Linked DNA regions of Homo sapiens. The protein of the gene in region 3 interacts with the protein of the main gene of each other region in a pairwise test. Each region holds a gene or a part of one and is shown on either strand. Other genes may lie near its edges. The genes, in order: DGLUCY, LETM1, PSMA3 and SLAIN1.

Region 1 (7,036 bases), about 33 Mb from region 3:
AGGGGTCCACAGCTGTACTAGTCTACCAAAGGGGTCCGTGGCACACAAAAAGTTAAGATTCCCTATTTTAAACCAGTAATTAACAGCAAACTCCCTCTCTCTATGTCACATAAAAATAGAAGCTAATTTCTATAACAGCTACTCCTCCTTCATTTAGCTGCCTTGAACTCTTGGTGCTCAGAGCTTGGATCTGTGCTAATTCCATTTTTTAACATTTTCACTTGATTTTTTTTTTTTTTTGGTCAGACAACAGTGCCTTGTGTTACCCATGCTGGCTTCTGCTGCCCTCTGGTGGTCACGATGAGGCCCATTCCCAAGGACAAGCTGGAAGGGCTGGTGCGGGCCTGCTGCTCCCTCGGAGGTGAGCAGGGGCAACCTGTTCACATGGGCGACCCAGGTCAGTGTCTCTCGCTCCTGCCCATGATCTTCCTGTTCACATGGGCAACCCAGGTCAGTGTCTCTCGCTCCTGCCCATGATCCCCCTGTTCACATCGGCGACCCAGGTCAGTGTCTCTCGCTCCTGCCCATGATCCTGACAGCCTCTCTTGGAGTTGGGCCTAAGAAGCAGACAGGAGTTTGCCACGTTCCTAAGCTCCCATGGCTTGTCTTTGTTTTTACCAGGGGTCTCCAGGGGCAAAGGCCCTGAACAAGGCTCAAAGGCTCTGGCAGCTGTATCAGGGCTGGGCTTACAGATGCCCCTCAGGTTTAAAGGTGCCACCCTTGGCAGAATAGCCAGTCTCACTGTGATGTAAGTTTATATATATCACATCCTTTTGGGTTTTTACCGAGGCTTAATAATACATACATAGGAAAAAATATATATATATATAATGAATATATATATTGGGTTTTGTCCACAATTCCTGGCTCATAACTCCTAAAATTCTTGGAACCTCCAAAATGCTGTATTTTGTCTGATAGGTTCAGGGTGGGGCTGGTCACCAGAAAGACTAAGGTAGGATTAGAGGGTTGGGACTTTCAGCTCCACCCCTCCCCGCAACCTCCAGGGAGGAAAGAGGGGCTAAAGGTCAAGCTGATTACCCACGGCTGATGGTTTAATCAATCATGCTCATGTAATGAAGCCTCCGTAAAACCCCAAGAGGATAGGCTTCAGTGAGCTTCTACATAGCTGAACACATGTAGGTTCCTAGAGGGTGGTGCCTAAGGAGGGCATGGAAGCTCCGCACCCCTTCCCCCACACCTTGCCCTGGGCATCTCTATCTGTATCCTTTGCAATATCCTTTATTTAATTTAATTAAATTAATTAATTTATTTATTTTTGAGACACAGTTTCCCTCTGTCGCCCAGGCTGGAGTGCAGCGTTGCAATCTCAGCTCACTGCAACCTCCATCTCCTGGGTTCAAGCGATTCTCCTGCCTCAGCCTCCCAAGTAGCTGGGATTACAGGTGCCCAACACCATGCCCAGCTAATTTTTGTATTTTTAGTAGAGATGGGGTTTTGCCATGTTGGCCAGGCTGGTCTTGAACGCCTGGCCTCAAGTGGTCTGCCCGTCTTGGCCTCCCAAAGTGCTGGGATTACAGGTATGAGCCACCGCACCCGGTCTGCAATATTTTTTATGATAAACTGGTATACATAAGTAAATGTTTCCTCAAGGTCTGTGAGCTGCTCCAGGAAATTAATCAAACTCAAAGAGTTTGGGTATAATCAAACCCAAAGAGGGTTAATCAAACTGGAAGCCAGTTGGTCAGAAGTTCTGGAGGCCCAGACTTGCAACTGGTGTCTGTAGGGGGGTGGCCTTGGGGACTGAGCCCTCAACCCGTGGGTTCTGATGCTATCTCCAGGTGGAATGGAATTGGAGGGCACCCAGCTGGTGCCTCCTGCTTGATGGTGGGGAGAAACCCCTACAAATTTGGTCACAGGAGTCTTCTGTGTGGATGACTGTTACTGCGGTGTGAGAGCAGAGGAAACACACCATTTAGGTAGAGTTTTTTTCTCTACACGCTCACCCACTGGGGATCTTTGATAAATGTAAAGCTCCTATGAACTTCCAATGAATCTGGGGTTGGAGGAAGCCAAGGGTTGCAGCAGGGCTCTTTGTCCGGAGATTTGAGCTCGAAGCAACGTCTAATCTGGGCTGCTATTCTTTGGTATATTTGGGTAGGAGATGGCTTTGTTCCATATGTTAATTTGAGCTGAAATCCATTGATCCCCAGCGTATTCACTCAATCTGAGAGTGAGTGAACAGATCCAAGATGAAGAGCCAATATCAAGAAGCTGTGCAGGCCTCTTAGAAGGCCTGATGAGAGTTTGAGACTGGGCCTTGGTTGAGGGTCCAAGTTTGGTATACCTAAACTTGCTCAACTGCATAACCGACAACATTAGACAGAACCTAGCCTTTTGTGAAAATGCAGTCAGTACTTGCTAGCTTCATCACATGAGGATGATTCAGGGCCACCCACCAGGATGGTGTCTGCTGAGGAGTTTTATCATTAGCGGGGATGGATTGGGCCCAGCACATCCATCTTTGCTGTCTTCGGGATTAGGTTGCTGCTGGTAGTCAAGCAGCTGAGGTTAGGTGCATGAGATGTGACCCAGCCTGGACCAAGGTCAACCCCCCAAGGCTGGCTTTGGTAGCAATCTGCACAATGAGAGTACTAGGCTCAATGCACCCAAGGATCCTTCCAGAAATCACGCCACACAGTTTGAGATTCTGTTTTCTGAAACCACCATGCCACATGGACTGTAAATTATGGAGTAGCCTGAGTTGTCAAAGCCTTAATCCCTATTCTCCTTCACCTCTTCCTCAAATACCATTTACAATAATCCTGCAATTTGAGTTTCTGTTTTAGAGAAAGAACCATAAACTACTCAACCAGTTCTAATTGGATGCTCCCTGCTGAGGAAATTACATTTTCCTTTTCCATCTGCAGAACTGTTGGGAATCAAAGAGCTTTCCAAACCTGCCTACGGGGATGCCATGGTGTGTCCCCCAGGGGAGGTTCCAGTGTTCTGGCCTTCTCCGCTGACCAGTCTCGGAGCTGTCAGCAGCTGTGGTACGTTGGGGGATAATGGGACAATCGATCTGCCCTAGGATGGAGCCCAGTGGGGTCTAGTTCTTGAAAGCATATTCTCGTAGTACAATGATTTAAAAATAAAGCCATGAAACAAAACACAAAACAGAGGCCTACAGCTACAGTGAATCTCTCTCTGGTTTCCTTCTTTTATTTATTTATTTTTTTTTGAGACAGGGTCTCACTCTGTTGCCAGGCTAGAGTGCTGTGGTGCAATCTCGGTTCACTGCAACCTCCAGCTCCCTGGTTCAAGCGATTTTTCAGTCTCAGCCTCCTGAGTAGCTGGGATTACAGGCATGTGCCACCATGCCCAGCTAATTTTTGTATTTTTAGTAGAGACGGGGTTTCACCATGTTGGCCAGGATGGTCTCAATCTCCTGACCTCGTGGTCTGCCCACCTTTGCCTCCCACAGTGCTGGGATTACAGGCGTGAGTCATCGCGCCTGGCCTGGTTTCCTTCTTTTAATCCCAGGGCTGGATCTCCTTACCAGAGCACTTTGTCTTACAACTCAATTTTTTTGTCGTTGGTTTTTTGGTTTTGTTGAGACACAGTCTCACTCTGTCGCCCAGGCTGGAGTGCAGTGGCACGATCTCGGCTCACTGCAAGCTCCGCCTCCTGGGCTCCAGCGAGGGAGGTGTGCCTCAGCCTCCCAAGTAGCTGGAATTACAGGTGCATGCCACCACACCTGGCTAATTTTTGTATTTTTAGTAGAGACGAGGTTTTGCCATGTTGGCCACGCTGGTCTTGAACTCCTGGCCTCAAGTGATCCTCCCACCTCAGCCTCCCAAAGTGCTTGGATTGCAGGCATGAGCCACCGTGTCCAGCCTCAAATATGTTTTGATTAAATATATTTCCTTCCTTCCTTCCCTTCTTCTTTCTTCTTTCTCTCTCTCTCCCTTCCTTCTTGTCTTGTCTTTCTTTCTTTCTCTTTCTTTCTTTCTTTCACAGAGTCTCACTCTATTGCCAAGGCTTGAGTTCAGTGGCATCATCATAGCTCACTGCAGCCTCAAACCTCTGGGGTCAAGTGATCCTCCCATCTCAGCTTCCCAGGTAGCTGGGACTACAGGCATACGCCGCCATACCAAACCAATTTTTAGAAATTTTTTGTAGAGATGGGGTCTTGTTACAATGTCCAGGCTGGTCTCAAAGTTCTGGGCTCAAGTGATTCTCCTGCCCCAGCCTCCTGAGTCATAGGGATAACAGCATGAGCCATTGCTTCAGCCGTTTTGATTAAATATATATTTTTATCTGCTGAAGCATCCCAGCCCATTCTAGCAGGAGGACTAACCTTTAGCTTGGCTTTTTGAGACATTTTGGAGATTGATGGGGCCTTGAAAACAAAGGTGAAGCCAAGAAATATAACTAAACAAGTCATTTCCTGTGGTATTTGCAAGGTGATTATAAACAAGGCCAGCAGCAGTACATTTTTTCCAAGGCCTAGGTGATATTACAATGAAGAGACACACGAGGGCGCCCTCGCTAGCTCTCAGTAAGATAGGAAGGTGACAGAAACATGAAAAATAACAGCTATTGCAGACCATGGTCATGGACACTGGAAAATTCTGGCCAGGCCAGCCACACTTGCGCTGTAAGCACATACTGTAGTGTTACTTTAATTTATTTTGAAAGCATTCGTGAGAGTTCAGCTATCAGAATGGCCTCATGCGAGGGAAAGATCATCCCTAATGTGGTGATGAGGCGTGGCTGCCAAGATCCACAGGATTCCATTTGTTCATTTATTTAAGTGCATGTGTTGAGAACCTGCTATGTGCCAGGCATGCACCCAGGCCTCAGGAGTACAGTGCTCCATGGGACAGGATGGAGTCCTCTGGGCGCTCATGGTCTTGTCTGAGTGTGTGTGTGGGCATGTGTGTAGACACACCCACCCACGTGCAGTAAACGTCCCCCAGCCCAGTGGCCTCACCGCTTTCCCACCATCGGTCGTGGCAGGTGCCCTGCAGAGGAGATCTCACTGCTGTGGGCACCCCAGCATGGCATGTTCCAGTCCTTTAGTTCTGACAGCGATAGCACAATTGATCGTAGATGAGAACAAATGACATCAGAGAGGGACAATCTTGAATCATTCTCAAATTCCCTTTTTTTTTTTTTGAGACAAGGTCTCGCTCTGTCACCCAGGCTGAGTGCAGTGGCACGATCACAGCTCACTGTAGCCTTGACCTCCTAGGCTCAAGCAATCCTCCCACCTGAGCCTCTGGAGTAGCTGGACTACAGGTATGCACCATCATGTCCAGCTAATTTTTAAATTTTTGTGGAGATGGGGTCTCACTATGTTGCCCAAGCTGGTCTTGAACTCCTGGGCTCAAGCGATCCTCCCACCTCAGCCTCCCAAAGTGCTGGGATTATAGTCGTGAGCCACCATGCCTACCTTGAACTTCAATATTTAAACTTCTATTAGCAATAGATTATGTGCAACAGACCTCACAACTGATGGGGGCAAAACCCCGTGTCATGCTCTGAGCTGACTGTTCTGACATCTACCTGGTTTTGGAGTGACCAGTTTTAGGTGCCATCCAAAACACAGACAAGCGATAATTAAATTCATCATCAGATTCAAGACTTTTTCCCCTTACACATCAAATCTAAAAGTTATGTATCTATTAGATTTTTATTTTGAAGTGCTGGCTGACTCTTTCTATTAAATATGAAACTTTAAGCCAAGTGTGGTGGCTTACGCCTGTAATCCCAGCACTTTGGGAGGCTGAGGTGGTCGGATCACTTGAGGTCAGGAGTTCAAGACCATCTTGGCCAACATGGTAAAACCCTGTCTCTACTAAAAATACAAAAATTAGCCAGGCGTGATGGCACACACCTATAATCCCAGCTACTTGGGAGGCTGAGAATTGCTTGAACCCCAGAGGCGGAGGTTGCAGCGAGCTGAGATCTCACCACTGCACTCCAGCCTGGGTGATAGAGCGAGACTCTGTCTCAAAAAAAAAAGAAACTTTATTGTTTCTGTGAAATCCAAGATTTATTTACTCAATTCACATCTGCATTTGTTGAACACCTATTATGCGCAAGGCCCTCTGTGGGATCCTGAGATGAATGAGCAATGGTCGCTCTTCTCCAGGAGCATACAACTGAGTAGAGATGAATACTCAAAGATAGTAATGACACTGAGGAAGGCAGAAGAGGTAAATAGTATGGTATTAAGCACTTAATGAGCTAGGCATAAGGAACTAAGAATGAGTAAGATACTACGTGGTTCAGGCCAGGCTCTGTGGCTCATGCCTGTAATCCCAGCACTGTGGTAGGCTGAGGCAGGAGGATTGCTTGAGCCCAGGAGTTTGAGGCCGCAGTGAGCTGTGTTGCACCACTGTACTCCAGCCTGGGCAACAGAGCAAGGCCTTATCTCTTTAAAAATATATATAGATGAGGCTGGGTGCGGTGGCTCACGCCTGTAATCCCAGCACTCTGGGAGGCTGAGACAGGAGGATCACCTGAGGTCAGGAGTTCGAGCCAGCCTAGCCAACATGGCAAAACCCTGTCTCTACTAAAAATACAAAAATTAGCCGGGTGTAGTGGTGCACGCCTATAATCCCAGCTACTCAGGAGGCTGAGACAGGAGAATTTCTTGAACCCGGGAGGCAGAGGTTGCAGTGAGCCGAGATCGCACCACTGCACTCCAACCTGGGCGACAGAGCAAGGTTCCGTCTCCAAAAAAAAAAAAATATATGCTTGTTCAATTAAGCAAACCATCGAGGGCTTACTCTGAAACAAGCACTTTGCTGAACACTTTCTTAAAAATTTATTTTTTTTTTTTACATTTTTAAACCACGAGTATGCTAAACACTTTTTTTTTTTTTTTTTTTTTTTGAGATAAGGTCTTGCTCTGTTGCCTAGGCTGGAGTGCAGTGACGTGTTCTCAGCTCACTGCAGCCTCTGCCTCCCAGGTTCAAGCAATTCTCCCACCTCAGCCTCCCAAGTAGCTGGGATTACAGGCGCACCACCAAGCTGGGCTAATTTTTGTATTTTTAATAGAGAC
Region 2 (7,036 bases), on a different chromosome or scaffold from region 3:
GCTGTCCTTCACGGTTCTGAAAAGATTCTCCATTTTCTGTCTTTGTTTCAGGGCTGCAATCTAGATGTTTTCTTTCTATTTTATTCATTCTCTTTTCAGCTGAAGTAATCTTGTTTAATGCAGCCACCAAGGTTTTATTTTCAGTGCCTATGTTTTTAACTCTAGAAGCTCAATTAGTTTATTTTAAATTAATTTTTTAATTTAAAAGAGATGGAATCTCACTTCAGAGGGGTAAACCTTGTGTGATGTAGGTGGTGAGCTAGTTTCTTCAGCACAGATATTGTTTGCTTCTGTGAGAGCCATGGGACACCATGGGCCTCAGAGAGTGCAGCCCTATGTGGGAATCGAGTCCACTCTCTCCCAGGTGCAGCCTCATCTCCTGTCTGCTCCATCCTTTCCTCCCAAGAACACCTCATGGTTTCTAGCTCTTGGGGTTTATATTACGTTTTTGTGGCTCTACTATTTATTTACTTATTTTTATTTTTGAGACAGGTTCTCGCTCCCCCACCCAGGCTGGAGTGCAGTTGCAACCTCATGGCTAACCAAAGCCTCAGCCCTCCCGGGCATAAGGGATCCTCCTACCTCAGCCTCCAGTGTAGCTGGGACCACAGACGCACGCTGTCATGCCAGGCTAATTTTTAAATTTTTCGTAGAGACTGGGTCTCACTATATTGCCAAGGTTGGTCTCAAACTCCTGACCTCAAGCAGTCCTGCTGCCTCGGCCTCCCAAAGTGCTGGGAGGCCTTCCTTTTTAAAGATAATCCTGGCCGGGCGCAGTGGCTCACACCTGTAATCCCAGAACTTTGGGAGGCCGAGGCGGGCCGATCATGAGGTCAAGAGATCGAGACCATCCTGGCCAACACGGTGAAACCCTGTCTCTACTAAAAATACAAAAATTAGCCGGTCGTGGTGGCGGGCGCGTGTAATCCCAACTACTCAGGAGGCTGAGGCAGGAGAATCACTTGAACTCGGGAGGCAGAGGTTGCAGTGAGCCGAGATCGCGCCCACTGCACTGTATCCTGGAGACAGAGTGAGACTCCATCTCAAAAAAATAAAAAGTAAAAAAAAAGATAATCCTGTGCACTGAAATGTGCTCTAAAAGGTTGGGATTTGCAGTTCTGCTTTTGTGTTTACAAACATTTAAGAAGTTATTTTCTTGGTTGGGTGTGGTGGCTCACGCCTGTAATCCAGCACTTTGGGAGGCCAGTGCTGCAGATCACCTGAGGTCAGGAGTTTGAGACCAGCCTGGCCAACATAGTGAAACCCTGTCTCTACCAAAAATATAAAAAAAAATTAGCTAGGCGTGGTGGCGCATGTCTGTAATCCCAGCTACTCTGGAGGCCGAGGCAGGAGAATCGCTTGAACCAGGGAGATGGAGATACAATGACCCAAGATCAGGCGATTGCACTCCAGCCTGGGTGACAGAGCTAGACGCCATCTCAAAAAAAAAAAAAAAAAAAAAACTTGTAAATTTGGATTTTAGTGATGGTTTTGCAATGTATAAATTTACCAAAAATCATCAAATTTATTTAAAATAGTTGAATGTTATGGTATGTAAATTACACCTCAGTAGAACTGCTAAAAAAATTAATGAGGCATATCAAAAAACACATGTGCCAGCTTTAAGGATATGTCCTGCCCAAATATGGCACCGTTTGGGAATAAAGACAGCCGTAAATTGTAAATCAGTCAAAAAATACAGGAGTCCATGGGTCCAGTGCGATAAAAAAACAGAAAAATGAATGTATAGGAAGGCAGGGTTCTCCCCTCCTGCAGATGACAAGATAGGAGAGTTAGGCAGCCACTGTTTTGTGCCCATGAGAGTGGAGGCTGGCTCAATGAGCGCGGGGTCGGGAGAGAGGCTGATGAGGAGGAGGACATTGCTGCTCTCAGGGCGTCTCCCTGGGAACGCTCACTTGTTGCCAGTGGAAACGCAGGAAACGTAGGAACTACATGGAACACCTTGGCCAAGGGACCCCTGTGAGCAGCACCAAGGAGGGGCAGCATCACCCGCGCTGTTTTCCAGCAGTTGTTCAGGCTTCACAGGGATTTCTGATTATTTCAAATTGGATGTTTCTTTAATGGCATCAAGTACTAGTTTGTTTATGTCAATGAAATACTTGGGTTTTTTCCTAATGATTGCTTTGTAGTATAGTCTTAGGAAACACAAGAGAAGCCCTCCTTATAGAGCACCCTCCAAGAGAAGGTGTGGCTCAGCCTATCCTGGTGACTCTCCACCACGCTAGTAATGCCCAGTCCTCAGCCTGCAGCCCTCACTTGCTGGCCCCCGAGCCCAGAGTGCTGGCCGGTGTCCTCGGAGGACTCGATCGCTGGGAGCACCCAGTGGCCCTTGGTGTCAGCACCATACCCTGCTTTTCTGGAGGCTGCTGGTACCTGCTTTGGACCCTGAGAAAGAAGTGGGTTTTGGGAATGGTCTGCTAAGTGGTTCTGGAACTTAGAGTCCTCAGTGGGTCCTGTGAGTCGCTGCCTGAGGTTGTGCCTATAAACCATTATAGGAGAAATGCTCACACCCCTTGCCCTTGTTCCCACATGTGCTCTGCTCCCCTCTGATGGATTCCGCCCCTTCCAGTTTCTCCGGATCTGCGCTGACCTCTTCCGCCTGGTGCCGTTCCTTGTGTTCGTGGTGGTGCCGTTCATGGAGTTTCTGCTGCCTGTTGCTGTGAAGCTCTTCCCCAACATGTTGCCATCCACATTTGAGACTCAGTCACTCAAGGTAAGGGCAGCATCCCAACTGCTTGTTTTAGAATGAGTCTGAAATTCATTGTGATGGCTTCCTTGTTTGTGACTTTTCAGGTGCTAGATATTTTTGAGACTTTATGTATCTTCATATTGTCCTTGTGCTGTGCAATAATTATTTAGTGGATGCTGGGTTTTGGATTTGTTTCTCTTTATTTCGTTATTTATTTATTTATTTATTTATTTTTGAAACAGGGTCTCGCTCTGTCACCCAGGCTGGAGTGCAGCAGTGCGATCTTGTCTCACTGCATACAACCTCTGCCTCCCGGGTTCAAGCGAATCTCCTGCCTCAGCCTCCCAAGTAGCTGGGATTATAGGCATGTGTGCCACCATACACAGGTCTCGCCCTGTCACCCAGGCTGGAGTGCAGTGGTGCGATCACGGCTCACTGCAGCCTCAAGTTCCTGGACTTAAGTGATCCTCTTGTCTTAGCTCCCGAATAGCTGGGACTACAGGCTAAGCCACCACATCTGACTAATTTTTTTTTGTTTTTTATAGACAAGATCTGCTATGTTGCCCAGGCTGGTCTCAAACTCCTGGGCACAAGTAATCCTCTTGCCATGACCTCCCAAAGTGTTATTATGGGTGTGAGCCACTGCTTCCAGCTCAATGTATTTTAAAATACAGGTTTTCTAGACCAGGAACACTCCCCTACCGGTGCTATAGGGGAGTCATGAGGTCCTTCTAGGGCAGGGTCAGCCAGCTGCAGCCCACAGGCCAGATCAGGACCCTGCCTGTTCTCAGCAGAGCCCTGTGGGGACCTGCGATGCCCAGTCATGTGTCTTGTCTGTGAGGCACCAGCAGAGTTAAGCATTTGTTTTAGACCACACAGCCATGAAGGCCAGACGCCTTCCTGTCTAGCCCATTACGGAAAGTGTGCCGATCCTTGCTTTAGGGAATCACACGAGTTTGTTTGTTTTTGTTTGTTTGTTTGTTTGTTTTTGTTTTGTTTTTGTTTTTTTTTTGAGACGGAGTTTCGCTCTGTCACCCAGGCTGGAGAGTGCAGTGGTGCAATCTCAGCTCACTGTAGCCTCCACCTCCTGGGTTCAAGCGATTCTTGTGCCTCAGCCTCCCAAGTAGCTGGGATTACAGGTGTGCATGCCTGGCTAATTTTTGTGTTTTTAGTAGAGACGGGGTTTCACCGTGTTGGCCAGGCTGGTCTCAAACTCCTGACCTCAGGTGATCCACCCACCTTGGCCTCCCAAAGTGCTGGGATTACAGGCATGAGCCACTGTGCCCGGCCCACACGGGTACTTTTTAAAACCATGAAATAAAAGAGTTTGAGAATGTATTGCACTTAGATGAGAGTCAGTGTGTTGTGAAATGTTTCTGGGAGTGGGGGTCGGGCACAGGCGTGAGATGTTTTCCTTGCCCGAACCACAGTCTGAGCAGTTGGAATGCAGTGCCCTCTCTGCCCTTGCAGGAGGAGAGGCTGAAGAAGGAGCTTCGGGTCAAGCTGGAGCTGGCCAAGTTCCTCCAGGACACCATCGAGGAGATGGCCTTGAAGAACAAGGCAGCCAAGGGCAGCGCCACCAAAGACTTCTCTGTGTTTTTCCAGAAGGTGCTGTGATACGTCTGAGTCCCTGTGACCTCACCAGGGAGCCTTCCCTGATTTTCTGTTTCCCTTTCGCTGTGCTCAGCAGAGTGGAGCTCCCCCAGGTGCTGGCTGGCGCTTGAAAGTTTACCCAGGAGGCTCAGTCGGGGGCCAGTGGAGTGTCAGGAGTCTGCCCCCACGAGCTCCCAGTGAGTTAAGCTGTGGTGGCTGCGCCTCGTCAGCCTTCAGAATTATGGGCGTCTGTGTCTCATCACCCTGCAGCTGTCCAGGAGCAGTAGAATCTGACCCATGAGGAGCCTGAGACCCTGATGGTGTGAGGTGTGGGTGGCTTGGCCGGGCTCCTCTGCTGGGCATTGCCCTCTGGCTGGAGTCAGTCAAGAAGATCCCAGGTCCCAGGGGCTGGTCAGAGGCCTGGACTGTGGGAGCAGTGGGGGCTGGAGAGGAGGAGCGGCCCTTGAGGTTTCCTGCGGTCATGTGGTGAGTGAGGTGAGGATGGGGAGACGGCAGCTGCCACGGACCGAGATCCCTGAGGACTAGATGGGGTTCACGAGGCCGGTGTTGTTGGCTTGAGGGACTTGTGCCACTTTGGAGTGAGAAGGATGTGTCTGAAGTGCAGGAAGAGCTTAAACCAGGGCCTAGAAACTCCAGCCATGCGTGTGCGTTGTCTGTGGGGTTTTCCCGCTGCAGCACAGAGGCGAGTGGTTTCCATGGCTGCAAAGCCAGAAATACTTGCTGTCTGGCCCTTGACAGAAAAGACTGCCAGGCTGAGGCCTAACCACGGAGAAGCCTCTCGGGAGGAGGCGACACAGCCATGGGGCTGCTGAGCCCCCCAGGGAGTGGGTGGTGGTTCCAGCAAGATGTTTTAGGGGGAGCCATGCTTTGGGAGCCTCACCCAGGACATCGTGCCTTGCAGAGCAGGAGGGGCCCGTCCCAACCTTTCCTGGGCCGCCCAGCTGCCAAGAAGGATGTGCTTGCAGTCACCTGCACGGGGGTGTGCTGCATAGGGCCGCCCCCAGGAGCACACCTGAAATTGTGTCTCAGAGCTGGCATCCTGCATGTTACGATTTGAGTTGGGCACCAAGTCAGCCTCGTCCTCCCTCATCTGTCACCTCTGCTAGGTACCCTCCTAGCCCAGCTCTTGGCAGAGACTGAGCTGGTGGCTTGTCCCTCAGGTGGTAGGAACTGCAGAGGATCACCCAAAGGGCCCTGAGTGATCCACGCTAAGGGACTCTAGCTCTCCCTAAAGAGCTAGATGGCCACCCCTCCCCCAAGGCTCAGGCAGTCATCCGTGGGAGATGTAGGTGCACACAGGTGCACCTCTTCCTGCCCCAGAGCAGCAGGGTCCCGGCCACTTCTGTGGCAGAGAGAGGATCACAGGACCTGCATGCAGCAGCCTGTGGGCCCGGGCGTCTCCCCCAGCAGACAGCAGCCTCAGCTTTGCTGGTTCAGGCAGGAGAGGTCCACAGGCCAGACGCCACCTTTCCCCAGGCTAGCCCAGCACCGGAGTCAGAAGTCAGTGGTTTGAGGCCAAGCTGGGCAGGTGACTTGAGGTCGGGTATTTGAGACCAGCCTGGCCAACATAGTGAAATCCCATCTCTACTAAAATACAAAAATTAGCTGGGTGTGGTGGCGCAGCCTGTAATCCCAGCTACTCGGGAGGCTAAGGCAGGAGAATCCCTTGAACCCAGGAGGTGGAGGTTGCAGTGAACCGAGATTACACCACTGCATTCCAGCCTGGGTAACAGAGCGAGACCCTGTCTCAAACAAAAAAAAAAAAGAAGAAGTAGTCAGTGGTTTGAGTCCCTGAGGATGAGAGGCAGCACCCTTTGGGAATGTGGTTGGTCGTGGGAGGGAGCCGGGTGGGCGCGTGTCCCGGGGATGACCCTTGTGACCACTTCCGCAGATCCGGGAAACAGGGGAGAGGCCCAGCAATGAGGAAATCATGCGTTTTTCCAAATTATTTGAGGATGAGCTGACCCTGGACAACCTGACACGGCCGCAGCTGGTGGCCCTGTGCAAGCTGCTGGAGCTACAGTCCATCGGCACCAACAACTTCCTGCGCTTCCAGCTTACCATGCGGCTGCGCTCCATAAAGGCAGACGACAAGGTGAGCCTGGCCATACTCCGCGCCACAGCTCTGGTGTTTTACCTTTTCGTTTCCTGATGATAAAAGCAGCATGTCCTCATTGTAGAAACTCTGGAAGATGCTGAACGATCGAAAATAAGCTCACTAGGAGTCTTGCCACTTGCAGATTGCAGATCCTTTGAAGATGGATGTCTTTTCTCTGGCACCTTCTCGGATGATCTCTCTGTTTGGATTTCGTCAGATTTATAATAACTTGCTTAGTTGTGTCTGTCTTTGTGTTCATCCTGCTTATTGATGACAGTGCCTCTGTGCCTCTCTCCTCACATCAGGGTCTTCATCGAGGGTCCATTTGCCCCTTTGCCCTGTCCTGTCCATCGCACGTGCTTGCCTCTGTGCTTCACGCCCTTTTGTGCTTTCAGGGCGCTGCCCTCCTTCTAGGTCTGATTACTCCTTTTTTTTTTTGAGACGGTGTTTCGATCTTGTTGCCCAGGTTGGAGTGCAGTGGCGAGATCTCGACTCACTGCAACCTCTGCCTCCTGGGTTCAAGCGATTCTCCTGCCTCAGCCTCCAGAGTAGCTGGGATTACAGGCGCCCGCCACCATACCCGGCTATTTTTTGTATTTTTTAGTAGAGACAGG
Region 3 (3,698 bases):
TGGTATTTTTATTTTAATCTTTAGAGATCAAGAAATTTTTTTAGTGACAGAATAGGGACTTTATTGATCCTTAAATCCGCCCCTCACCACAATAAAGGAAAAAAGCAAAAACATCCTTGACTCATGTATTGAAGGGTCTTTTTTGAGAAGGGTCAGTTTTTGAAAAATTATCCAAAACTGAAACATCTGTCATCTGTATCACATCTAAAGATTAACAGTGACTGATGACCACCAGTTACTTCATATGAAAGTGGGAAACCGTATCAGTTATTTGTCCACTAAGTTGGTAGGTGCTTTTTGTACAAAAGCCCAGGAGAATATGATCTGTAAATTCTAGTTGAGTGATGAAGATGGGGCTTTGAATTAATCTACAGTCTTGGAATTAATTCTGCAGCATTTTAACCAGGGAATTTTTCAGTAGTCATAAATCTATATTTTAATACTGAGTAAATGTCCTCATTTACCCCCACCAATTTTGTAAAGCAGATATTAACCAAACTTCAATAGTTATAAGACAAAAATTTAATGAAAATTGGACAGTATGTATAATCCAGGGCTAAATAGTTACATTGGACTGGAGTAGAAATTTAAAATACAATAGATGCTGGAGTAAATGTTACATATTATCATCATCTGATTCATCTTCTTCCTTCAGAGATTCCTGTTAAGAGAAAACAGGTGTTTAAAATTGATTTTTAAAATTGTTATATCCCACACCTGTGGGCAAGTTAAGCTACAACAACCTGAATTAAGTGGTTAAATTCCTCTACTTGTAACTGAATGAACAGTTTCAGAATAAGATACCCAAGCAAAGTTAATTAAGCAAATGTTGCTCTAACATGCAATGACTGTATCTTTGATAGAATATATACTTAAGAGGCCTGGTGCAGTGTTCATGCCTGTAATCCCAGCACTTTACGGGGGCCAAAGTAGGCAGATCACGTGAGTTCAAGAGTTTGAAACTAGCCTGGTGAAAACCCGTCTCTGTATTATTGGTGAAGCCAAAAATACAAAAGTAGCCAGGTATGGTGGCATGTTCCTGTAATCCCAGCTACTTGGGAGGCGGAGGCAGGAGGATCGCTTGAACCCTGGAGGCAGAGGTTGCAGTGAGCAGAGATGGTGCCACTGCCCTCCAGCCTGGGTGACAGAGCAAGACTCCGTCTCAAAAAAAAAAAAAAAAAAAAGAACAAATATTTAAAGTATTAAAAGTCCTAAAAAACTCTTTGCAGTCTAAACCTCCCAAGTTTTTTTTTTTTGGAACCAAGGCAACTTTACCCACTAGAGATAACCTAGAAAATTTCTATCTTTAGTTCAACTGAACTCTCAGTGTTATTTCATAGAAACCACCCCAGTCTATTTATATTATTCAACACATAATTTTGGTTAGAGAATTTTTTTTTTTTTAAATTAGGGATGGGGGTCTTGCTGTGCTGCTCAGGCTGGTCTCAAACTCCTGGGCTAAGTGATTCCCTGACTGTACCTGGCCAAGAGAAGTTTTTGTGCTGTGGCTTACCTTAGCATATTTCTCTGCTTCTTCTCTTATATCTTTTGGAACAATTTCATGTCTTCCATTAGTTACTGTAAATTAAGCCACATGTGTAAATGAATTTTAAATTGAGTACCATATTGTAACTTGCAGTATACCATAGGATCTACCCAATCCACATATCTGACTCACCTAAGGTTGCAAAGTTGTACTATGAGTAATACTCGAATATTTTTGTGTGCTGCTTCTACATGAGATTATATGTGCCTACATATTAAGTTCTTATGGAAATGAAAGTAAATTATGCTATTTATAAATCCTGAGCATTAATTTATAGCATAGTATCTTAAAACCATGAAATGGATGTTTCAAAAAATAACGTGTTCACAACTTAAGTCAATTATTAAGCAGAACTTTCCCTTCATTAGACAACCTAGTAAATTTGCTTTAGCTTTCATTATATTAGAAAGGACACTCAGTTGTAAATTAGCTGTGGTACAGATCATTCCTAAGGCAAATAAATGTACAAAAATAACTTACATTCACCAACCCAGCTGAGTTCTAGTTCAAAAGCTTTATCCTTAACTTCGTCATGTACTATGTAAATTCTAGAATAGAAAAGGGAAAGGTAAGATTTTGGTAACCTCCAAACATTGAAGTAGTTCACAGACCCAAAGTCAGTACAAATTAGAATGTCCATCCATAATAAAAGTATCTATAAAATTACACAGACACATTCTACATAGTATTTAACATTAGAGAAGACAAATTACACAGGGACTGAAATAAAATGAAACATCTACTCTCCCGACAAATGTTGAATATACCTAATCAACCCAAGTTCAGTTTATTTTTGCACATTGCTTTAGAGATATAACTTGGCTGGGCACAGTGGCTCACACCTGTAATCCCAACACTTTGGGAGACCAAGGCGGATGGATCACTTGAGGTCAGTTCGAGACTAGCCTGGCCAACATGGTGAAACCCTGTCTCTACTAAGAAACAAAAATCAGCCAGGTGTGGTGGTGGGCGCCTGTAATCTCAGCTACTCAGGAGGCTAAGGCAGGAGAATTCCTTGAACCCGGGAGGCAGGGGTTGCAGTGAGCCAAGATCACACTACTGCACTCCATCCTGGGCTACAGTAGAGCGAGACTCCATCTCAGAAAAAAAAAAAGATACAACTATAAAAGATACCTCATAAAGAACACGGATTCACTAGGAAGAGGCGTCATTAACTGTGCCCTTTTAGAATATTTTGTCCATTAACTTAAATATATTTAAAACCAACTAATTGGCTGGACATGGTGGCTCGTGCCTGTAATCCTAGCACTTTGGGGAGGCAGAGGCGGGTGGATCATGAGGTCAGGAGTTCGAGACCATCCTGGCCAACATGGTGAACCCACGTCTCTACTAAAAATACAAAAATTAGCCAGGTGAGGTGGCCATAGGCCTGTAGTCCCAACTACTCGGGAAACTGAGGCAGGAGACTTGCTTGAACCCAGGAGGTAGGGGCTGCAGTGAGCTGAGATCACGACACTGCACTCCAGCCTGGGCAACAGAGTGAGACTCTGTTTCAAAAAAATAAAAAAAAAAAAACTAATTTATGTGCTTGCAATTATTAGTGGTCTCTTCAACCTATAGCTTCTTGGCAGTAGTCTTTTTAAGCTCCTTGTCCATTTTATAATGGCATATATGCCACATAACCTGGCCTTCACATTGTAGTACCTTACAAATTACAGCAAAGAAGGAGGCACTGTCATGCAACATATTAAAGTAACATAAAAAGTATCAAGAGGCCAGGTGCGGTGGTTCACATCTGTAATCCCAGCACTTTGGGAGGCCAAGGTGGGTGGATCACAAGGTCAGGAGTTCAAGACCAGCCTGGCCAAGATGGTAAAGCCTGTCTCTACTAAAAATACAAAAATTAGCCAGGTGTGGTGGTGGGCGCCTGTAATCCCAGCTACTTGAGAGGCTGATGCAGGAGAATTGCTTGAACACGGGAGGCGGAGGTTGCAGTGAGCCAAGATCGTGCCACTGCCCTCCAGTCTGGACGACAGAGTGAGACTCCATCTCAAAAAAAAAAAAGTATCAAATTAAGTACAGTAGCAGAGTATAGCTTTATCTAATACTATGCACTGAGTTACATACCTTACTTTTTGGAGGGTCTTCTAAAACCTTGCTATAATATGAGAGGATCTTGATTTTCTACAAC
Region 4 (7,036 bases), on a different chromosome or scaffold from region 3:
TCTGTCATCAGGGGAATAATCACATTTATACAATGGAATACTGCTTAGTAATACAGCAACACAGGTGAATCTCACAGACAAAGTGTCGAGTGAAAGAAGCCAGATTAAAAGGTTAACATACTAATAAGTCTATTCCTAGGAAGCTCAAAATAGGGAAAAACAGTCTGTTGTGATAAAAGTGGGAATAACACTTACCTTTGGGGGAGTTTTGACTAGGAAGAGGCATGAGAGAGCATTGTAAGGTGCTGGTGATGCTTTTTATCTTGATATGATTAGTGGTTACATGAACATATGCACTTTGAAAATTCACTGAGCTGTAGACTTAAGATGTATGTATTTTATGTATATTATGCTTCAGAAGAAATTGAGCCAAATTCATGTGTTGAAGGTTTTTAAAAAATTAACACTTTTTTGGAGCAGTTTTCAGTTTATAGAAAAATTGAACAGGAAGTACAAAGAATTCCCATGTAATCCCTCACCCTCTGTATCTTCCTAGTTTCCCCTATTATTAACATCTTGTGTTAGTGCAGTAGACTTGTTACAGTTGCTGAACTAGTATATTAAATATTTGCATGGTTAAAAACTAGCAAATTAAGGCATTACAGAATTGATTAGAAAGAATCTTAGAGATGATTCGTCAACCAAGAGGACTTTGCTGTGTCACAAAGCTAAATGGGAACACACCTAAGGGAGGATCTTACATAGACTTTATTTTTATAAAGCTTTTTGACTACTATACACATGTATCAACATTTCTTTTTTTTTTTCTTATTTCAATAGTTTTTGGGGTATAGCTGGTTTTTGGTTACATGGATAAGTTATTTAGTGGTGATTTCTGAGATTTTGGTGCACCTGTTACCGAAGCAGTGTACACTGTACCCAATATGTAGTTTTTATCCCTCACCACCCTCCCAGACTTCCCCACAAGTCCCCAGAGTCCATTATCTCATTCTTATGCCTTTACATCCTCATAGCTAAGCTCCCACTTACATGAGAGAACATACGATATTTACTTTTCCACTCCTGAGTTATTTCACTTAGAATAATGGCCTCTGGTTCCATCAAAGTTGCTGCAAAATATTAATTTGTTTCTTTTTATGGGTGAGTAGTATTCCTTGGTGTATATATACCACAGTTCTTTATCCACCCGTTGGTTGATGGGCACTTAGGTTGGTTCTATATCTAAGCCATTGCAAATGCTGTTGCTATAAACATGCGTATGAATGTGTCTTTTTTTCAAATAATGACATCTTTTCCTTTGGGTAGATACCCAGTAGTGGGATTGCTGGATCAAATGGTAATTCTACTTTTAGTTCTTTAAGGAATCTTCATACTGTTTTCCATAGTGGGTCTACTAATTTACACTCCCACCAGCAGTGTAAAAGTGTTCCCTTTTTGCCACATCCACACCGAATCTATTGTTTTTGACTTTTTAATTATGGCCATTCTTGCAGGGTAAGGTGGTATCTCATTGTGGTTTTAATTTGCATTTCCCTAATGATTAGTGATGTTGAACATTTTTTCATTTGTCTGTTGGCTGTGTATCTTTTTTTGAGAAATGTCAATTCATGCTCTTTGCCCACTTTTTGATGGGATTAGTTGTTTTTTTTCTTGTTGATTTATTTGAGTTCCTTGTAGATTCTAGCTATTAGTCCTTTATCAGATGCATAGTTTGCAGATATTTTTTTCTACTCTGAGTTATCTGTTTACTCACTGATTATTTATTTTGGTGTGCAGAAGCTTTGTAGTTTAATTAGGTCCCATTTATTTATTTTTGTTTGAGTTGCCTTTGCTTTTGGGATTTTAGTCATGATTTCTTTGTCTAAGCCAATGTCCAGAATAATTTTTCCAATATTATCTTCTAGAATTTTTATGGCTTCAGGTCTTATATTTAAGTCTTTGATCCATTTTGAGTTGATTTTTGTATAAGGTGAGAGGTAGGTATTCAGTTTCATTCTTCTACATGTGGCTTGCCAGTTTTCCCAGCACCATTTACTGAATAGGGTGTCCTTTCCCCAATTTATGTTTTTGTATGCTTTATTGAAGATCAGTTGGCTGTAAGTATTAGGGTTTATTTCTGGGTTCTCTATTCTGTTCAATTGGTCGATATGCCTATTTTTATAGCAGTACCATGCTGTTTTGGTAACTATAGCCTTGTAGTATAATTTGAAGTCAGTTAATGTGGTACCTCTAGACTTGTTCTTTTTGCTTAGTCTTGCTTTGGCTATGTGGGCCGTTTTTTGGTTCCATATGAATTTTAGGATTGTTTGGATTGTTTTTTCTAGTTCTGTGAAGAATGATGATGGTATTTTGATAGAATTGCATTGAATCTGTAGATTGCTTTGGGCAGTATGGTCATTTTCACAGTATTGATTCTTCCATTTCATGAGCATGGGATGTGTTTTGTTTGTGTCATTTGTGATTTCTTTCAACAGTGTTTTGTAGTTTTCCTTGTAAGATTTTTCACCTCCTTGGTTAAGTATATTTCTAAGTATTTTATTTTATTTTTTATAGATGTTGTAAAAGGGATTGAGTTCCTGATTTAATTTTCAGCTTGGTTGTTGTTGGTATACAGCAGTGCTACTGATTTGTGTACATTGATTTTGTATCCTGAGACTTTACTGAATCCATTTATCAGATCTAGGAGCTTTTTGGATGAATCTTCAGGGTTTTCTAGGTATCTAATCATATTATTGGTAAACAGTGACAGTTTGACATCCTCTTTTCCAATTTGGATGCCCTTTATTTCTTTCTCTTCTATAAGTACTCTGGCTAGGACTTCCTGTGTTATGTTGACTAGAAATGGTGAAAGTGGACATTGTTGTGAAGGACGTTTTGTTCCATTTCTCAGGGGGAATGCTTTCAACTTTTCCTCGTTCAATATGATGTTGACTATGGGTTTGTCATATATCGCTTTTATTACTTTGAAGTAAGTCCCTTGTATGCCTGTTTTGTTGAGGGTTTTTATCATAAAGGGATGCTGGATTTTATCAAATGCTTTTTTGTATCTGTTGAGATGATCATATAGTTTTGGTTTTTAATTCTGTTTATGTGATGTACCACATTTACTGATTGGCCTATGTTAAACCATTTCTATATCCCTGGGATGAAACCTGCTTGATCATGATGTGTTATCTTTTTGATAGCACATGTATCAGTATTTCTGTGTATAGATTTTGCCTTGTATAATTAAACACATTTTTTAAGGAAAAAAAATTTAAGGAAAAACTATTTTTAAGGAAATATTTTCAAGAGATGATAAATAAAACCATAGATACTTTTTTGGGTCTTTTTCCCCCTTATATTTATTTCAAAAAAGTATTTATATATTTCATGATTAAGTAAATTCAACTGTTTTAGAAAACAGGGTATGTCCATGTTTAACCATGTTGCCAGTACTAGGCATCAAAGGCTTGGGTAGTTAGTATGTAAGCAGAATTCTGTGCATAAGTTTCTATTAAATTTGATTGTTTTCCTTGGAGAAAGGGATTAAAAAATTTAAAAACTTCTGCCTACCAGTTTGTTACTTTTAATGTGAAATGATACACAAAGTTGGATCAGTATATTGATGAAATTTTTAAGGGTTCTTATCCAGAGAGTTCCCAGTGCCCTTCATTTTATAGGTTTTGCTACTATTATAAATGTAATAATGCCCAGCAACTCAGATAGATAAATGACATAATGAATATTATTTAAGGAATATATCTGTAATAAACTGTTTGTACCTACAGATACCACCTTGTCTTCTTTTCTGTAATTACAACTATTAAAGTATCTCCTCATTTTATTTTCTTGGAACCACCACCAAAGCAAGCATCAAGAAATCCTAATGTCTAGCAAGCAAACGGGGAAGACTTTCTCTTGTGAGAACTCAGACATCATCACATTTGTAAAGGAAAGGAGGCTGTGCTTAGAACTGGCTTCTGCATATAGCCAGGCACTCCAAAATGTGGCTGATGGACAGACCAGGAGATCTTTGTCAAGGATTAGAATTTTCCATTTCTCAGTGCTGTCTGGAACCTATATTCTGTTTTTCTCCTCCTGTGTATATTGTACTCTCAGGCATAATGGACTCTTCTGAAAATAACACACATTTCCTAAGTCGGATAGTGGTAGAAGGTTGCTCACATGAATATCATTTTCTCTTCTAGTTCCATCACCGGGACAGCTTCAACACAGGGTCCACAGCGTGGGGCATTTCCCAGTGTCTATCCGACAGCCTCTTAAAGCCACAGCCTATGTGAGTCCAACCGTTCAAGGCAGCAGTAACATGCCTTTATCAAACGGCTTACAGCTGTATTCCAACACAGGAATCCCCACACCGAACAAAGCTGCAGCTTCTGGGATAATGGGTCGCAGTGCACTCCCAAGACCTTCGTTGGCAATAAATGGGAGTAACCTGCCTCGAAGCAAAATTGCACAACCTGTTAGAAGGTAAGAATGTGTATTTGCGTAACTTCATTTGCAGTTTGGAACTAGAAACTGCTCCAGACACACGCTGACTTTTCCTTTGGCTCACTTTAACCTTAGTAAGACACTACCCTTTATGGCCTGACTTGTGCTCTCCTCCCTTTGAAAAGTGATGGATATCCCTGTGTGGGTCAGGTCCCCTTCTCTCTGATGTCATTTTCTTCCCTTACTCCCTCATCACTATCACTCCTAAGACGCTCTTTGCTTTTGCTTTTACCAGATAAGCTCTGTCTCCAGAGCTTTTGTAGCTTTCTGCTCCCAAGTTATTTGCATGGCTTGCTCTGTGCCTCCCTCAGGTCTTTGCTCAGATGGCAGCTCTATCCAAAAATTGTAGGGCGGGGGGAGGTTGACTTTTTGGTTCATTGCTGTGTATCCCCGATGCCAAGAACTATGCCCAATACAGGTAGGATCTCAAATATTTGTTGAATCAGTCATTTTTAATCAAAATATGGAAAAATGTGTCAGGCGTATGTGCACACGCACACCCTCCTCCCACACATTTATGGTTTGAAAAGCATCTTAATGACATTCACCTGGGGCTTTATCAGCTTATGTTGGTAAGTTCAGTATGGTCCAGGTAGTAATTTTTTTTTTTTCCCTTCAAAGTTTCAGAGTACTTCAAAGGACATTTAGTCTAGCTCTTGGTCATGATGTTCCCTTCTTGAACTGGATATCATGGAGTATCTTATATTAAAAATCCATAAAAGTGGTTTGAGGAGAGATTGGTAGATGAGGAAATAAAGACAATAAATACAGACAGCTCTTTCAAGAAATTAGGATATGAAGGAGAAGGAGAAAACCATAGTAAAAAGTTTGAAAGAGGTGGAACAAGCAATTTTTTTCTGTCTTTATGCATTTATGGATATATAAATAGTTTTATTTTGTTTTGTTTGTTTAGAAGTAATAGATGCTCAGATCAACAACAAATTTCGAAAAACAGAAACTATTGAAAAATAGAAAAGTAAAGACTGACCCATAATCCTACTGCCAGATAGAAATAATTTTGGTACATGTTTATTTATTCAGTAAGTTTTGGCTTATTCTGCTTTGTAAATGCAGAGCTGTGTCATCATGCTGATGGCTGACTAGAATCACATTATTTGATGTATATGGTTATTGTAGACCATACATTTATCCTTGACTATGTGTCTCCAAACTAAACTCTTGGAAAGGTCACTGCTAGACAATGTGAGATGGTCTATTTCCCCAAACTTAAGCAAATGCTAGGTATTATTCTTTTTAATTGTTTTAAATTTAAATTTTTTATTTTATCTATTCTTTTTAGAGACAGGGTCTTGCTCTTTTGCCCAGGCTGGAGTGCAGTGTTATGGTTGTAGCTTGTTGTAACCTCAAACTCCTGGGCTCAAGTGATCCTCCTGCCTTGCTAGGACTACAGTGCATATCACCACTCCCAGATAATTTGAAAAAAAAATTGTAGAGACAAGGTCTTGCTATGTTGCCCAAGCTGGTCTTGAATTCCTGGCCTCAAGTTTTCCTCCTGCCTCGGCCTCCCAAAGTGTTGGGATTATAGATGTGAGCCACTGCACTCAGCCAAAGATTCTTTTTAAATGTTTTGCGAATATGATAGGCAAATCTTCAATTACTAATAAGGTTTTGAAAATGTCTTCATATTCATTTGCTGTTTGTATTCAACAGAGTAACCATTTATGTTTTTAGGTCATTTTTCTAGCCAGGATCCTATATTTTTCTTATTTTAAAATATGTTTTATACATTAAGGGTATTGGCCCCTTTATTTATGTTGCAAATTTTCTTGTGCAAATACAACATGCATGACACTTTGCCATGAACTGGGGCTCTGGGAGATAAGCATGCAGTGAAGACCCGTAAGTGTGAACCACAAGGTACACTTGAGATGGTGCCAGTGGCTTCTCATTACTGCAGTGGAAGAACATAGATGGGAGAGTAGGTCAAAGTGAGTGATGTGACTCATAGGATTATTAACAATCTCTCTCTCTGTTTTTCTTGTCTCTTTTTAGTTTTCTTCAGCCTCCAAAGCCTCTGTCTTCACTCAGCACTCTGAGGGATGGAAATTGGAGAGATGGTTGCTACTAATGCAGTTTTATGTACCCTTGAAAAATGGGAAAGAAGTAAAAATGAGGGTTGTGTTACCTAGCTGGCTGGGTAGCAGTGGATGTTGGGATATTCTTTCCCTTTTGTGTTTTAATATATTTACTGCATTGTTTCTCAATGGACCAGTCACCAGAGACTAATTATTGCACTTAAATATTTGCCTGAGATACTGCAACATTCTCAAACCCATGGTTGCAGTATTGTGACACTTAGATCTAGGAAGTTTTTGTAGAACTGCTCTGTACCTGAATACTTTTTGAGAGAATTAAGATGTATCAATAATGCTTTGCCATATGAGTTTTTTAAAGTAACTTGTTCAATTTACTCACGTGTTCTAAACATCTTTCCATTACATGTTCTGTATTTTAATACATTGCATATTGACAACTAGGTTCTATAATGTATGCTTTGAAATTTACTTTTTTATAGTTTACAGGAATTTTATTTTTTGTGCCTATTTCTTTTTACACCTAT

Evidence for each region.
Region 1: the proteins of PSMA3 (region 3) and DGLUCY interact in binary tests that used the Homo sapiens proteins (3 or more experiments, as listed by UniProt).
Region 2: the proteins of PSMA3 (region 3) and LETM1 interact in binary tests that used the Homo sapiens proteins (3 or more experiments, as listed by UniProt).
Region 4: the proteins of PSMA3 (region 3) and SLAIN1 interact in binary tests that used the Homo sapiens proteins (3 or more experiments, as listed by UniProt).

The regions. Positions count from the first base shown.
Region 1 is NC_000014.9:91,173,043-91,180,078, forward strand, and holds part of DGLUCY (D-glutamate cyclase, mitochondrial isoform b precursor), read left to right. Parts: intron 1-246; coding exon 247-397; intron 398-2,891; coding exon 2,892-3,014; intron 3,015-7,036. UniProt on the Homo sapiens protein: D-glutamate cyclase that converts D-glutamate to 5-oxo-D-proline.
Region 2 is NC_000004.12:1,832,127-1,839,162, reverse strand, and holds part of LETM1 (mitochondrial proton/calcium exchanger protein precursor), read left to right. Parts: intron 1-2,590; coding exon 2,591-2,734; intron 2,735-4,180; coding exon 4,181-4,318; intron 4,319-6,215; coding exon 6,216-6,419; intron 6,420-7,036. UniProt on the Homo sapiens protein: Plays an important role in maintenance of mitochondrial morphology and in mediating either calcium or potassium/proton antiport. Mediates proton-dependent calcium efflux from mitochondrion.
Region 3 is NC_000014.9:58,268,814-58,272,511, reverse strand, and holds the end of PSMA3 (proteasome subunit alpha type-3), read right to left. Parts: intron 2,095-3,698; coding exon 2,027-2,094; intron 1,579-2,026; coding exon 1,514-1,578; intron 662-1,513; coding exon 617-661; 3' UTR 508-616; downstream 1-507. UniProt on the Homo sapiens protein: Component of the 20S core proteasome complex involved in the proteolytic degradation of most intracellular proteins. This complex plays numerous essential roles within the cell by associating with different regulatory particles.
Region 4 is NC_000013.11:77,756,677-77,763,712, forward strand, and holds part of SLAIN1 (SLAIN motif-containing protein 1), read left to right. Parts: intron 1-4,151; coding exon 4,152-4,434; intron 4,435-6,468; coding exon 6,469-6,544; 3' UTR 6,545-7,036. UniProt on the Homo sapiens protein: Microtubule plus-end tracking protein that might be involved in the regulation of cytoplasmic microtubule dynamics, microtubule organization and microtubule elongation.